Linked DNA regions of Homo sapiens: region 2 is linked to region 1. The links come from fine-mapping of genetic effects on gene expression. A gene starts in region 1. The other region holds a variant in brackets. All regions are shown on one strand. Distances are between the middles of the regions.

Region 1 (8,386 bases):
TTAGCATTAGGCAAATTGGGTTGGAGGGGTAGTGAGAGAACAAACCTAAAAGAATGGAAGAAACTAATTGATTGATTCCATGCTAAATACACCTGACTAGTATCAATTTGCAAGACATGGATGTTGCATTTGGATAGAGACCAGCAGGAAGATACCTAATAATAACCTTAGGCAGAATTCCAGTTGACCACAGTAAATACCCAAGGAAGCTCACGTTTGTTTATTTTCGCCAATATTGCGCATTAAGAGTGTTTCACTTTTAAAATGTATGCTGTTCTGGGTGGCTAAGTAGATGGCAATATTAGCAAAGGAAGCCATTGATGTCTCTGGAAATCTGGTCATCTTTTTGAATACTAGCAGATGAGCATGCTACCTCCAAACTGACATAATGCACCTTCTGCAAGACAGCAGTCTCTTGGCACTGCTCCACTTTGAAGTAAAACCCGAAATGAACTCCTCCTGCTAATGTGGCATGTTGAACCAACCCTTTTTTATTTCCAAGGCCTTCTCAGTTGATCCATAGTATATCCATCTTCATGGAAGTGACTATTGCAGTCTAGAATTACAATTCCTTCTGACAACAGAATGCACCCCTAGAAGAACTTGTCCAAGGTCATTAACCAAATTCTCAAGCAGACAACTTTCAGGGTGGCTGGGCCTTGTTAGAAAGGGCTTCTGGGACACCTGCTGAGCCCAGAGGATCTTTCTAGGCATAATCTGAGGGCTGGGAAGATATGAGGACACAGTCCTTGCTCAGAGGAGTCCTTGTATCTCAGGAGTTAGATTTCCAAGAAGGGCTATTACATCATATCACCCAAGGCCACTCAGTTTCTCATCTTGACAGTCAAGCTGATGAGTCACCTTGCATCATGTTTAATCAGGAAAATAGTAAAGAACTGAAAACAAGTCAAGAATCAAGAGTAAACATTGTAACAATGTAAAGAGTTCTCAGAAGCATCTCAAATCAGAGCACCATGGTAAAATGGTAAGAGTAGTAAGATTATATTCCTAAAATATAGGCTCTATCATAAAACCTAGGTAATGCTTTTGTTATTTCTTTTCTAATTTCTTTATCAGAGTTACTGCATTCTATTTAATCGTCTCCTTTCTTATATTTTCCTCTAATGAAGAATAAGGCAGGTAGAGAAACTACAAGTTTTCCTGGCAGAAGAACTTCCCCTTGAAATATAATTCAATCATATCTGCAATATTATTATCAATTTGTTACTTACAGGGATCTAAAATATAGACTGCTTTAAAGTCTATTTATTCACTCACGTATGCCAGCTCCCCACTTCATTTCAGCAACTAGGAGAAGGAGCCTGCCCTCTGAAGGAGAATCCAAGTGTGGAGCTTCAATCCTAAACAGGCCCCCTGCAAATATTTCATACACTTTCCATAGTTAGTTAAGCAACTCAGTAGCCACACTCTGTTGATGGCTGTGGTGTCAGTGACCCACATACAATTTGGAGCTATATGCCTGGGTGCTGGGAGAAATGCAGAATTTATACAATTTGAAATATGAAGACACTAGCAAAGCTACAAGATCAACAGAAACTACTAAAAACCAGAGAAAGAAATGCTAATTTCATGTTTTCACTTGCTGCTCACTCTCTTCATCAACAAACTTTTTTATTAAGTAGTTAGCATGTGCCTTAGTTATTAAAGTAAGATCATTAGCAAAGGAAAGTTAGGCTATAAAGTATAAATCTAAATTTAGAATATAACCCTACAGTGATCAAAGTTAGCTAATAAGAGAGAAGGCAATTTGAAAATTTTAGTAGTGTTTTATAAATTGGTTGCAAGCCCCTGTTTAAACAGAGTCAAATTTCAGTAGCCCATGACAATGATGAACAACGTGGAAAATTTTGTATCATAAGTAAATCAAAGCAGGTGCTTCAACAGTTCAACTTATGTACATCTGTATCATACCTATGCATGTGCATGATACACACACACACACACACACACACACACACACACACACACGAAACCAGAACTGCCAAAAAGATGGGAAGGGAATGTATCTCACTTATGAGTATGTTATAGAAGAAAGATCTTCCACTTTTCCGGTGTAGAGCTCTGGGTTCAAATCCCAGCTCTGCCCCCTTCAAAGCAGTGTGACCCTTGGGCAAGTCACTTACCCTCTCTGAACCTCAGTTTCCTTATTTCTACAATGGGTGGGAGGTGAGGGTGTAGAGCACATTGCCAGCTTTGCGTGGTTCTTGTGAGTTACCACCTGGAATAAGCTGTCACGAGTGAAAGTGGAAAGTAACTTGGCCAGGTGCAGTGGGTCACACCTGTAATCCCAATACTTTGGAGGCCAAGGTGGGCGGATCACCTGAGGGCAGGAGTTCGAGACCAGCCTGGCCAACATGGCAAAACCCCGTCTCTACCAAAAATACAAAAAAATATTAGCCAGGCATGGTGCTGCCCACCTGTAATCCCAGCTACTCAGGAGGCTGAGGCAGGAGAATCGCTTGAACCTGGGAGGTGGAGGTTGTGGTGAGCCAAGATCAGGCCACTGCACTCTAGCCTGGAGGACATAGTGAGACTCCATCTTAAAAAAACAAGAAAGTAACTTGAACTTTCTTCTTTCCCTTAATTTTCTCTGCCCATCTCCCTCAGGCAGAAGCAATCAAGAAGCAGAATAGCTAAGAGGTAAAAATGGAAGGAAAAATAGTAGGCAAAAGAGACTGAAATGATGCACAAACTGGAGCTGGATGCCGCCTTTCTCTCCTCTGCCCTTTACCTCTGTCAGGAAGGTATGTGATGCAAATTTGAAGATTGTGGTTACTTTAAAAAATATATTTTTGGGTAAGCATGGGCACAAATATATATACATATGTGTGTATATATGTATATATGTGTGTATATACATATATATATATACACACATATATATATTGGTCCAGTGCTGTGGCACAAGCCTGTAATCCCAGCTACTTGGGAGGCTGAGGCAGGAGGATCACTTGAGTCCAGGAGTTCAAGTTTGAGGCCAGCCTGGAAAACAGAGTGAGTCTCTCTCTCTATTTATGTGTATATATGTATATGTGCATATGATAATCTTGTAATATGCTTTTAGTGGTCATTTTCCTTTATGCTAAACCATAAGTTGTTTAGTGACTCAAAGGAATCCCTTAGTAACAAACTTATTGGGATGGTTTGTATCTCATGAGAACATAGACACTGCACTGTGTATGTCATTCAGTAAGTGGCTAAAGTGCTAGGGCACAGTTACTATTAAACTGCCCTAAGAGAAAACATTTTTAAAAATAGAAGCATAGGGGAAAAAAGCCCACAGGGCTCTAATATAACTTCCTCTGTATTTGTGCTTTTTAGGAAGTTGTTCTAAGCCTCCTTTGAACCCTTATTAACTCTTATTAAGAAATAACAGTTTTATGATGGGTTGGCCTTCTCATCTGCGAGCCCTAATTTTGCAGGTTCACAGAAAATGCTACATCACAAAATCCTTTTTTAAAAAACTCTTCCCAGGGTCAAACTCCACAGCCAATCAAAATATTCCACCTTTTAACTTGAGGGAAATCGCTAAAGGAAAGGATAGCTTTAACTAGTGTGTCTTTTGGATTGGGGGACTCAAAGAGAGGTCTCCCCAAGTTCCACAAGACTTCGGACCACAGAAAACCCACCACCCATGCGTGTTTTTGATTCCTTGAGGACACATGCTGAGGTGGTTGGGAACGAAGTTTCACATCTACCTAAAAGATCATGACCAGGGATAGAGAGACGACCAAATTTGGGAGAGCAGTTACGGTGCAGTTACGGAGGCGGAAGGACGCTCTCAGTACCCCGTTTCCACACTTTCATTCTTAAAGGCATGCAACCCCTTTCTAAATAAATGTAGCTCCCCAGGTTTCCACTACCTGAAGAGAAACCCTCACAGCACACTCTGGAAATGTTTTACAATTCGTTTTAAATGCGTATTATTTCTAACTAAATCATTGAGGGACTCCTATGTATTTATTTATTTATTTATTTTGAACATTTTCAAACGGATGGGGAAGTTTTGCTTCCATGTTTCCATTTTTTTCCCCCCAAATTGGCATTAGGCACCAAAATCAGTTGAGGAACGAAGCATTCCTTAGCTAGAATTTAAAACTTAACAAGGGACTCTTCCCGAGCTTGGTAAAGAGAATACCATTTTAAAATTGCACTGTAGGATTTTTTTACCTTCAGACAAGAACACACCTAAAAGGAAAAAGGCCCTCCCCTCCTCCCGAAGCACAAAAACACAGCATATCCCAAGCAGCCCGTTTCCTACCCAGCCAATACAATAACGCTTTGTAAACTGAGAGCAGCGCCCGGTATAGAAGCTAAGTATAAACAGCTGAGAAGGATTAGGCGGTAGCGCTCTTCTCATTTACATGAAAATCCTCTAAGCATCGTTTTCCTCGCTGGCTGCGGGCGCATAAGGAACTCTTTTATGCCATAGCCACGCATACATTTCCATCCTTTGTCTTTACTTACCAGTCGAGGCTGTGGGCATGTGTGCTCTATTTCCTCCATGGTTTCTGAGGGAGGCTCATTGGAAAGGGATTTTGGGATACCTGTTTCTGACTCAGCATCAGTGGTAACTACTGGCATGGCCAGTGAATGCTCCCTCTAGCTCTACACCCTCAGAGAGTCTCCTCCCAGGCAGAGAATGTTTTCTTTGTCACGTATTTTTCTCCCCTCTACCCTCCACCCATCCCCCCGCTTCTTCTCCCCTTCTTTCTGTCTTCCCTAGGGGAAGTAAAGAGGTTACCCCCCGCCCCTCTCTCTCTCTCTCTCTCCCAGAAGCCAAGAGGCAAGGCCTCAGTTTATCACTATAACAACCAGACGACACTGAAGCGGCTGGTGCGGGATACAGTATCTCATTTGCATAGAGCGCGCTGGTTGGCTACTGTCATCATAGTACCACTCCGCCGGGAAGCGGCCGGGCCCCATTGGCTAGCCCTCCGTACCCACGGGCCCGAACTTGCTGCTTTTGTTTCTTCTGTTTAATTCAGTTGCAAAGGTCTCCGTCCTCTCTGGGCACGGGACCCGGGCTGCGCCACCCAGATAACATAAAACCGCTTCCTGAGGGGCCTAGGACGCCTTGAGAAACAACATAGCAGACCTCCACTAATAAAGGACCATGTCCCTGGGATGAGCTAGTGCATGATGTGCTGTAGTCAGGATATTTGCCAAATAGGAGTCACCCTGAAGACAAAGCCACTTTTGAGCCCAAATTCATTGTGCTAATTGCCAGTGGAGGGCCCCTCCGGGCATTCACTATGGGCACCTGAGTGTTCGACCCCTGGACTTCATGCAACGTGAACCCTGGCAGATCCCCTCGTGGCCTGGTGTAGCCCTGGAGCCCTCCCCTGGGGCTGCCCTAGGGGGAACTTTGAAGGAGGTAGATTGTCTTTAACAGCCTGCCTCCTACTCCTGGCTGCCCTTTCGCAGTTGCTTCCTCTGTCAGCCACTCTTCCCCTTCCCCAGCTATTCAAAGTTTCCTCAAGAAGTCTTGCTGTTGTGTGCCTTTCAATACACTGTTCCATGCACTGCTCTATTTTCTCTTGGTTCCTACTTTACCAGTCGTGGGTCCCATTTCCGAAGTACCCTGCTCTCAGCCAAATGCTCATGGCAATCAGAGATGGAATGTTAACGATCAGGTGCTTTAATGTCTACATTATCTAGGGACATTCACATTTTAAGAGGAGCATTCTGAAGACACACATCCAAAGAACTTACCAAGGTATTCATTGTGAATTGTCACTTTTAATATTAATAAAAAATCATGATGATCCCTGGCATTTATTAAGCACAAGCACGGTGCTAAGTACTTTACCTAGTTCTTGTTTAATCTTTGTGAGAACCCAAAGAGGTAGATCCTATTGTTATCCTCATTTTACAGGTATTCACATTCACAAAATTCTAAAATAATGCAGCTGGGATTTGAAGGAATTTTTTTTTTTTTTTTTTTTTTTTTTGCGAAGGGCGAGGTGGTGGGGGCGGGCGCGTAGGGACCAGGGATGCAGCAGGTGTAGTAAGAAAAGGATCTAGGCAGGAGTCCTCTTAGGACAAGTCCCTGGGCTTCTACATCTTTCATTTTTATCTACAGTAGTGGTTTTCATTCAAGTGTGGTCTGGGACCAGCAGCACCAACATCAGCATCACCAGGGAACTTGTTAGAAATGCGAATTATTGGCCCCCTGCCAGACCCCGGACCTGATTCAGTAAGTCTGGGGTGGGGTCAGAATTTGCTTTTCTAGAGAGTTTCTGGGTGTTGTTAATGCTGCAGGTCTGGGAACTATACTTTGAGAATCAGTAGCCCAAAGGATGGGATAAAAATACCGGGCTTGCCTCCATCACAGAAAGGAGATCAAATGAGATATCATGTCATTGCACTTTTTGAATTAGAACGTGCTATGCTAATATAAGGGGACATTATTTTTATTACTCCTCAATAAGCAAAGAGGGCTAGTCCTAAAAGAAGAAGAAAATGGATTCTGTAGCAGAGAATTACAGTTTGACAGTTTTAGATGCTGGCCCTTTAAGTCAGAATAACATCACTTAAGAGTATTATGACCTATACAGGACAGAACTCCAGTGTTGTGAGAATTCCAGTGATGCTTCCTACCCTATTTGCCCTCCTGGAAGCACAAAACACTTCCAGCAGCAGGTTTAACTCTACCAGCTCATCACCTGGAAGAGCCAAGCCCTGTGTTACATTTAGGAGCCCTTTTCCTACGTGTACTGGGTGACGTGCAAATGACATGGTTATTCTAATCTCAATATATGTATTTTTGCCTTAGAGCAGTGGTTCTCAAAGTGTACTTCTCCAAGAAGTGCAGCAGCAGCCCTGGTCACTTGTCAGAAATTCTGGATCCCCACCCCAGACCTACTGAATCAGAAATTCTGGCTTCCCACTCCAGACCTACTGAATCAAAACCTCCTGGTTTGGGAGGCATTCTGACCCACGCTAAAGTTTACAAACCACTACCTTAGAGTCACTGTTCACATTGGAAAGCACCTAAACCCCACTGTATTCTTGGCCACTGAGCCACCCCTTGGTTCCTAATTGGTCACCTAATTCTCTCTCCAGAATGAGAGGTTCACCTGTTCACCTGCTCATTTTAAAGAGTTCTGATGTCTAGCTGAGTCCTTGTGAACTCTTGTCCAAGAGCCTAGGCCATTCCTTTAGACTCCCAATATCTTCTGTCTCCCTTCCTCACCTTCTTCTCCTCCTAATCCTCCCCTGTCCCATTGAACCAAGATACTGCCTTTGCCTAGGATATCTTCATTGTATTACCCACATCAAATCCTTAGCTTTCAGTGCTACTTTGTGCTAAGTCCGTCACACCTGACACTTACTCATCCCAAGTCCTTGAACTTTGAAATTTAGACTTCTGTCTAACTGCCCTGAGGGTCAGCTCTATAACTAATTCCATTCCCACTAATTCTGCTCCAGCCTAGTCCTGGCTTCTTCCTGCTCCTCTCCCCACAGTCCTGTGATTGAATCTCAGCATGTCTTGCAGTCTTAATGGCAGAAATAGGCTCTTTCAGGCACCACTCTGAGAGGAGTCCTTAACAGATCCACCCACTTTGGAGACCAGTCCTGGCAGCTGCTACAACCTGACTCAGAAACTTCTTGATAATACTTGAGTGAGTTATTTTAACTTGGGGGCATTGTAATGCTATCAAGACAATTAGCTAAGAATGATCAGTTAATTCCACACTACAGAGCTAAATATTCCATAAGGGTTATGAAGGGGATGACTATGAAGGGATAGCAGGAGAGAGTTTATTGGGGTAATGGAATTATTATGTAGCTTTTTTTTTTTTTTTTTTTTTCAGACAGGATCTTACTCTGTTGCCAGGCTGGAATGCAGTGGTGCAATCTCAGCTCACTGCAACCTCTGTCTCCCAGGCTCAAGCGATCCTCCCACCTGAGCCTCCCAAGTATCTGGGACCACAGGTGTATGCCACCACTCCTGTCTAATCTTTCTATATTTTTGGTAGAGACAGGGTTTCACTGTGTTGCCCAGGCTGGTCTGGAACTTCTGGCCTCAAGTGATTCACCTTCCTCGGCCTCCCAAAGTGCTAGGATTATAGGCGTGAGCCACTGTGGCCGTCCAAGAATCATTATGTATCTTGATTATGGTAATGATTTCAAAAAATCCATGCATGTGTTAACTTCATTAGAAATTCCATAGAGGATATTTGTCAGTATATGCTAACAGCCTTTAGAATATTCATACCCTTTGACCTAGGGATTCCACTTGGTAATTTATCCCAAAAGAAATAGAGAAGCACACAAATAATTATGTACAAAGATGCTTAATGCAGAATTATTTATAAAAGGCAAAAAAGATACAACTTACAGCAATAGTAGGAATAGT
Region 2 (8,386 bases), 32 kb after region 1:
CATTCTTTTTTTTTTTTTTTTTTTTTTTTTTTTTTGAGGCAGAGTTTCGATCTCGTTGCCCAGGCTGGAGTGCAATGGTGCGATCTCGGCTCACCACAACCTCTGCCTCCCAGGTTCAAGTGATTCTCCTGCCTCAGCCTCCCTAGTAGCTGAGATTACAGGCATGCGCCACCACACCTGGCTAATTTTGTGTTTTTAGTAGAGACAGGGTTTCACCATGTTGGTCAGGATGGTCTCAAACTCCCAAACTCAGATGATCCACCCTCCTTGGCCTCCCAAAGTGCTGGGATTACAGGCATGAGCCACCGCTCCCAGCCCTCATCCTTATTCTTATCTTGCATAGATGATTCCCCAAAAGAGACTGGGATTGGCCATCAAAGGTAAGCCACACTGTAGAGGTAGGTTCCAAGTAGTGAATTAAAACAGAAAAAAAAAAACAAAAAAACCATACCCAAGTCCTGGGCACATTATTTCCTCCAGATTTATTCACTGGATCCATTAAAATGATGTCCCAACTTGATGGAGCACGAACAGGTCAACTCAAATAGAAAGTTTCTCTGAAACTAACTGAAGCCTGGTTCAGCTGTCAGGAAAAATCACCCACCTCTATTTGCACTTGTTTGCTCTTGTCAGTAATGGAAAAATCACTCTTGTGTCATTAAGGCCCAATGGTTTACAAGAGAGGCATATTTTGAAATTGCTTCTTGCTGTCATACCTTAGAATAACAGTGCATTTGATTATATTTCCAAGCTTCTTGTTTCACATCCCAAAGAAGAATCACTACCAATCTACTCCCTCAGTTAATTCCTGCTTAGAGCAGGTAATTCTTTGTCATGAGCACAAGAAAGGTGAGAGGGTAGGTTTTGATTAATTATGACTATAAAACAAAGATAATGAGGACAGAGTCACCAATACCACTACATAGGCTATTCTCATCACAGACCTAGTTGGGTCAGTAAATCAAGCCGTTTACCCTTGGATTATGGAGGTGTCTGTTATCCAAACACTTATTGGTGGCTTTCTAGGGTCTTCTCTACTTTTGAGAATCTCATGAACTAAAATGGTATCAGGGATTCGTATTGAAAGTTCTGTAGCACTGTGCAGTGACTATAGTTAAGAGAAGTTTACTGCATCTTTACAAATAGCTAGAAGAAAAACTTGCATGTTACCAACACAAAGAAATGATAAATGTTTAAGTGATGGATTTGCTAATTACCCAATTTAATTATTACACATTGCACACATGTATTAAAATATCCCACTGTACCACACAAATACGTACAATTATTATGTGTCAATTATAAATAATAATAATAAAAGATCATTTGCAGCAACATGGATGGAACTGGAGGTCGTTATCTTAAGTGAAACAAGCCAGGCAAAAAAAGACAAATGTTGTACATTCTCACCTATATGTGGGAGCTGAAAAGTTTGATCACACAGAAGTGGAGAGTGGAAAGACAGATAACAGAGACTGGAAAGGGTGAGTGGTGGGAGAGGGAGGATGAAGAGAAGTGGGTTAAAGGGCACAAACATAGGGTTAGATTGAAGGAGTAAATTCAATGTTTAATAACAGAGTGGGGTGACTATAGTCAACAGAAGTGTATTGTACTCAGGTGATGGACACACCAAATACCCTGACTTGACCAATATGCATTATATACATGTAACAAAATTTCACATGTACCCCATAAATTTCTACAAATAAAAAAATTAATAATTTTAAAAGGGAAAAAAGAAAAAAAATGTGTTTTACTCTCTTCTACCACAAGGGGTGCTCCAGAGCTCTGAGAATCGCCCAGCTCCGTATAGTTGGAAATGGGTTGGCAGCAGCAGGTCTCAGCTACCTTGTATGGCACTTTGTGTGAATTAAAAAAAAAAAAAAAGGTACTCCTCTGAGCTGAAGCAGCCCTACGTGGTGAGCCCTATGTAATCTCCCAGTCTGCAGGGAGCCTTTGCAGCCACTGATCCTCAGAGAAAACGGAGTTGTTGAGGAAGCAAACTGTGTTAGCCCCATCACAGGAGATACACACCTGAATTTGGAGGACAAGTATCTTCTCTGGCCAGGGGGTATTCTATGCCAGGAGGGATGGTCAACTAGGCCTCAGCTCCAGAGCTGGTGAACCGTCCTCCTTTTCCACTAATTCCCCAGCAGCATTTTGTTTGCCTTTCTAGTACCTCATCTGTCTGTAGGGGGTGCCCTGAATCATGGACTTGGGCCCCATTTTAAGGGTCCTGCTTTGGCTCTCCTCCTCTGAGGAGTCCATGGGCCAAGGAGACAGGGTGCACATATGGAGACCCCCATCCTCCTTCTAGAACACTCTGGAGTTCTCTGCCCAAATTCCTGAGCCTGCTTCCAGGGCCTGTTTGGCCTCTTCCTCATGGCCACCTTCTCAGGAGTAATCTCACTGCAGAGTTGCACATCTCTAGGCACAAGGGGTGGTCAAGCAAGGGATTGTAGCAGGAGGATGTGAGCAGAACCTGGATATCTAGGCTGGTTCCACCCTGTGGTGGGGAACAGAGAAGGGGCTCTGCTCCCCACCACCTTTCCTGCAAAGAACTCCAAGCCACTTGACCTCCTAGGTCATTAACAAGATATGTTTGTCAAGTTAGGAAGATGGGATGTGTGTGTGTGTGTGTGTGTGTGTATGTGTGTGTGTGTGTGTGTGTGTGTATACACACATATATGTACAGTCTGTTAGCAAGATTTCAAACTTTTAAATATTTAGACCTATGATACATGGGCCTCCATTTATACTCTTGCTCTGACCCCACAAATGTTAGAGGCAAACCCAGCTAGGGATATTTGAAATCACTCTGGAAATGAATGACTTAGCATTTTCTGGTGATTTTAATTATACAGATAATTACAGGTAGATTGTCATTAAAAATCTGATGATCTCTGAATATATGAACAATATGATTTTCTGCATCAAAGTAGCTGAGGGCTAGATTCTGGACTAAGGTGAAATAATCTGCTCTACCCCTAGAGTACTTCTTGGTACAGAGTAGTTGCTTTAAAAATTATTGTCGGCCAGGCGTGGTGGCTCACACCTGTAATCCTAGCACTTTGGGAGGTCAAAATGGGCAGATCACCTGAGCTCAGGAGTTCAAGACCAGCCTGGCCAACATGGTGAAACCACATCTCTACTAAAAATACAAAAATTAGCCAGGCGTGGTGGCATGCACCTATAATCCCAGCTACTCAGGAGGCTGAGGCAGGAGAATCACTTGAACCCAGGAGGCGGAGATT[G/T]CAGTGAGCCGAGATCATGCCACTGTACTCCAGCCTGGACAACAGAGCAAGACTCTGTCTCAAAAAAAAGAATAAAATAAAAATAAAAATTATCGTTATGTGAATAAATGAATCCTGGAAGCATTTTGTAACTGCTTCTCATCATTTGCCGTGTGTTTGCTGATTAACTGGGCTGCAGAAACTCCTCTTTGACTGATGACGTTATCCAAGGCTGCTCTGGGGATGTTAGCCCTGAGATGAAATAAAGGAACAGATGAGGAGATGGTAGGCTCCATGGGCCTGGAGGAAAGTGACTACTGATGACTCCCTACCTTTTTGCTTTTTTGGATTTCCTAAAATTAACTATCAACAGTTCTGAAGAAGGAATGCAAAGTATGGATTTTGCATTTCCAAAGTAGGGACTAGAATCATAGTCCATCCACGTGATGCCAAGACATACACAAGTTCAAAAGCAGAATGTAGGTATTTTTGCATATCGCTGTTTCTGTTGGATTTATCAAACATCTACTGTGTGTCAAGCCTGAAGCCAGGTGAAAAATGAAGACAATTACGACAGTATCCACCTTCATGGAATTATAAATCAGTATATGAGTTCTATATTAGTCTGTTCTCACACTGCTGATAAAAACATACCTGAGACTGGGTAATTTGTAAAGAAAAAGAGGTTTAATGGACTCACGTGGAACGTGACTGGGGAGGCCTCACAATCATAGTGGAAGGAGAAAGGCACGTCTTACATGGCAGCAGACAAGAGAATGAGAGCCAAGCGAAAAGGGAAACGCCTTATAAAACCATCAGATCTCATGAGACTTATTCACTACCATGAGAACTGTATGGGGGAAACAGCCCCCATGATTCAATTACCTCCCACCAGGTCCCTCTCACAACACCTGGGAATTATAGGAGCTAAAATTCAAGATGAGATTTGGGTGGGAACACAGCCAAACCATATCAAGTTCTGTTAAATTGAATATCTCCCTGACTTAAATGATCAATTTCATGCCCCAACTCCAAAGCATCACTCTCTTTTCCCCCTTACCCTGCTTTACTTTGTTTTAGAATACCAATTACAAAGGAATATTAATACATTATGTTTATTGGTTTATTGTCTGTCTCTCCCAACAGAATGTAAGGGCAGGGACTTTGCCTCACTGCTGATATCCCCAGTGCCTAGAACAGTGCTTGGCACATATTAAGTGCTCAATAAACATTTTGTGAATGAACAAATGATTTTGGCATTGAAATTGCCCTATTTTCTTCTTCTTCAACATGGCTTTGAGTGGATAGGAGAATAATGCAAAGAAAAACAATCTGATTTCACAACAAGAGATACTCCTGAAAGAACTATTGGCAGATAAATAATGCTAAAGATAGAGATAGGATCTGGAGAACAACTAGTGTCAAAGAAAAATATATGCGTTGAAAAATTGTAGGGAACAACAACGTTCGGAATTTATTAGTTTTCTTTTTAGACACACAGTAGTTTTATTTGCAGTAACTTGGTGAAACAACCCAGTTCCAAGCAAATAAATGTCTTTAAAGTTTGTTGATCCATTAGGCCATTAACAAAACTTCTCTGAGCTGTTGGAGTGATAAGCCAAGCGACTCAGACATTGTTTTCTTTCCCCTACCTCACAACAATTATTTTAATGGATCACTGGCACTTTGCAGACATTTTTCTTACTAATAGAAAAACTCACTTTCTGCTTGGTGTGAAACTGAGTTAGAAGAAAACTGAGCATAATATATTTTGTAGTTGCTTTTACATCTTTCTCGTGACTTTTTGCCATTTGCCAGCAACCCTTGCATGATGCAAGATATCTGTGCTTGACCTGAGAGCCTAACCCATTGTATCTTCCCACCTTCCCCTTTCCTCTTCTCCATTCTCCCATCTACCAAGGCAAAAGAGAGTCTTTACCTTCAAATGTGAATCCTGAAGAAATTGTTGTGTTGGAGGGGCCGCAAGTTAAGGATTTCTAAGAACTTCACCTCCAGATGTTCATGACTGTGGACAATGCAACTGCATCAATTTGTGATTAGAAGAGAAACACACTTAGACATCCAGTGCCATCTATAAGAAACAGGCCCCCACCAGACACTAAATCTGCTGACATCTTGATCTCAAACTTCCTGGCCTCCCAAACTGTGAGCAATAAATTTCTGTTATTTATAAATTACCCAGTCTAAGGTACTTTGTTATAGCAGCCGGGACTGAGACATCCCTCAAATTCATCTATAGATTCAGTGTAATCCCAGTCAAAATTCCCGCAAGAGTTTTGGTAGAAATTGACTAACTGATCATAAAAATTATATGAAAATGCAGACTTAAATTGGCCAAAATAATTTCGAAAAGAAGAACAGTGTTGGAGAACTCAGACTCCCTGATTTTAAGACTTCTATAAGGCTTCAGTAGTTTAAACAATGTGATATTGCCATGAGTATAGACAGATAGGTAAATGGAACAGAATAGAAAATCCAGAAAATAGATCCACGTGTGTGGTAGATTGATTTGCAATAAAATGCCAAGGTACTTCCATGATAAAAACAATCGCCTTTTTAAAAAGTGCACCATTTATAGCAGCATTATTCATAAAAACCAAGAAGTAGAAACAACCCAAGTACCCATTGATGGATGAATGGATAAACAAAATGTGGTATATACATACGATGGAATATTATTCGGCCTTAAAAAGGAAAAGAAATTCTGACACATGCTGTAACATAGATGAACCTTGAGAATATTATGCTAAGTGAAATAAGCCAACAACAAAAATACAAACAGTTTGACTCCACTTATATGAAGTACCTGGAGTAGTAAAATTTACAGAGACAGAAAGTAGAGAGATGATTGCCAGGGGCTAGAGAGAGTGGGGAATGGGGAGTTGTTGTTTAACTGGTATAGAGTTTTGTAAGATAAAAAGCGTTCTGGGCCGGGCGCTGTGGCTCACGCCCGTAATCCCAACACTTTGGGAGGCCGAGCCGGGTGGATCACGAGGTCAGGCGATCCAGACCATCCTGGTAACACGGTGAAACCCCGTCTCTACTAAAAAAACAAAAAAATTAGCCGGGCATGGTGGTGGGCGCCTGTAGTCCCAGCTACTCGGGAGGCTGAGGCAGGAGAACGGCGTGAACCCGGGAGGCGGAGCTTGCAGGGAGCCCAGATCTCGCCACTGCACTCCAGCCTGGGCGACAGTGTGAGACTCCGTCTCAAAAAAAAAAGCGTTCTGGAAATTGGTCACACAACACTGTGAATATACTTAATGCAATTGAATTGTATCCTTAACAATAGTTACAATGATAAATTTTATGCCATATGTATTTTACCACAATAAAAATTAAAAAATAAAAAAGATGCCAGAACAATTGGATATCTAGAAGCAAAAAAAAAAAAAAAAAAAAAAGAAAAAAAAAGAACTGTATCTCACATTATATAGAAAAATGGAAATGAATCATAGACCTCAATGTAAAAGCCATAAAAAATCTAGTATAAAACAGGAGAAAATCTTTGGGTTAGGCAGAGATTTCTTAGATAGGACACAAAAACATGAACCACAAAAAATGGGTACATTGAATTACATCAAAAATAAAAACTTTTACTCTTCAAAGACACAGTTAAGAAAATAAAAAGCGTAAGCCACAGACTGGGAGAAAATATTTGCAAAACACTTATTTTTACAGGATTTTTATTTCAGATGTATAAAAGTTCACAATTTAATAATTAAACAAGTTACTCAGTTTTTTAAAGGGGCAAAATATTTGAACAAAGACTTCATCAAAAAAGGTATACAGCTTTCTGCCTTTTTCCAGCTTTTAAGATATTGAAGGGAGGACGTGATGGGTCTTCCAGTATGAAATTCTGGATTTCCCTGGGTCTTCTGTTAGGAGTGGAATCAACTGTGCTGACAACACAGGAGCTGAAAAATCTGTGTATTTTCTCAGTGAAGGGAATCAAGGGATGGCTGAACAGACTCTCCGCTGCTGGTGTGGGTGATGTGGTGATGGCTACAGTTAAGAAAGGCAAACCACAGCTTAGAAAGAAGGTACACCCAGCAGTGATAATTTTTTTTGTGTGTGTCATGGAATTTCACTTTTGTTGCCCAGGCTGGAGTGCAATGGTGCGATCTCAGCTCACTTGCCACCTCCGCCTCCTGGGTTCAAGCGATTCTCCTGCTTCAGGCTCCTGAGTAGCTGAGATCACAGGTGCCCACCACCACGACCAGCTAACTTTTGTACTTTAGTAGAGACGGGGTTTCACCATATTGGTTAGGCTGGCCTTGAACTCCAGACCTCAGGCGATCCACCCACCTCAGCCTCCCAAAGTGCTGGGATTACAGGCGTGAGCCACTGCGCCTGGTCTAGCAGTGGTAATTTGACAATGAAAGTCTTACCAGATAAAAGATGAAATGCTTCTTTATTTTGAAGATAATGTGGAAGTTATAGGAAATAATAAAGGTAAGATAAAAATTTCTGCTATCACAGGACAGATTGTGAAGGAGGGTGCAGAATTGTGCCCCAGTATTAGATACAGCTCTGGTAGCATTGCATGACTCTCAAGTGTATTTGTCAAAAAAAAAAATTAAAAATTATTTGCTCCCTCCCCTCCAATAAAAGAAGAAGAAGAAGAAGATATACAAGAGATGGTCAAGAGATTTCTGGTTCCAGCTCACACATGTAAAGAGTTTGGAAGTTGTCACTACCATCCTTATATCAAGAAAAAGATGGACAAACTGAATGAAAATTAATGACTTTTCTTAGACTCATAAGATAACTGAGATAGCAGGGCAAACTGCCATCCCCAAATCTAGAGAGACAGGCATATACAGAGAATCACAGTCCAGATCTGCCTACCTGGAGCAGAAGCTGCTGGGGCCATAAACTGGTACGGACACTTAGATGGTAACTTTGATTAATAGCTGGAGGCTGAATGTGGATTAGCATGAGAGTAAGAGACTCCTAGAGGCTGGTATCATGGGAGGGACCGCACATTTTGGTGGGCTTAAGCCCACCAGATTCTCACTGTGAGGATCTGAGGAAGATCTTCGTATTAGTCTGTCCTCACGCTGCTGATAAAGACATAACTGAGACTGAGTAATTTATAAAAGAAGGCGGTTTAATTGACTCATAGTTTCACA

What was found. PIP is the estimated chance that this variant, and not a neighbour inherited with it, causes the effect.
Region 2: its variant is fine-mapped to the expression of PCYT1B in lung (TOPMed, PIP 0.94).

What each region holds. Positions count from the first base shown.
Region 1 is chrX:24,642,501-24,650,886 of GRCh38, forward strand. PCYT1B (phosphate cytidylyltransferase 1B, choline) reads right to left here and starts at 4,847. Exons shown (of 8, transcript NM_004845.5): 1 at 4,489-4,847. The coding sequence starts at 4,605. PCYT1B-AS1 (PCYT1B antisense RNA 1) reads left to right here and starts at 7,573. Exons shown (of 2, transcript NR_046638.1): 1 at 7,573-7,649. RefSeq lists an enhancer at 5,043-5,092.
Region 2 is chrX:24,674,834-24,683,219 of GRCh38, forward strand. It overlaps the pseudogene LOC100288233. Among named protein-coding and RNA genes, the nearest start is that of POLA1, 15 kb to the right of the region's middle. The variant G/T (reference allele first, on the strand shown) is at 3,255.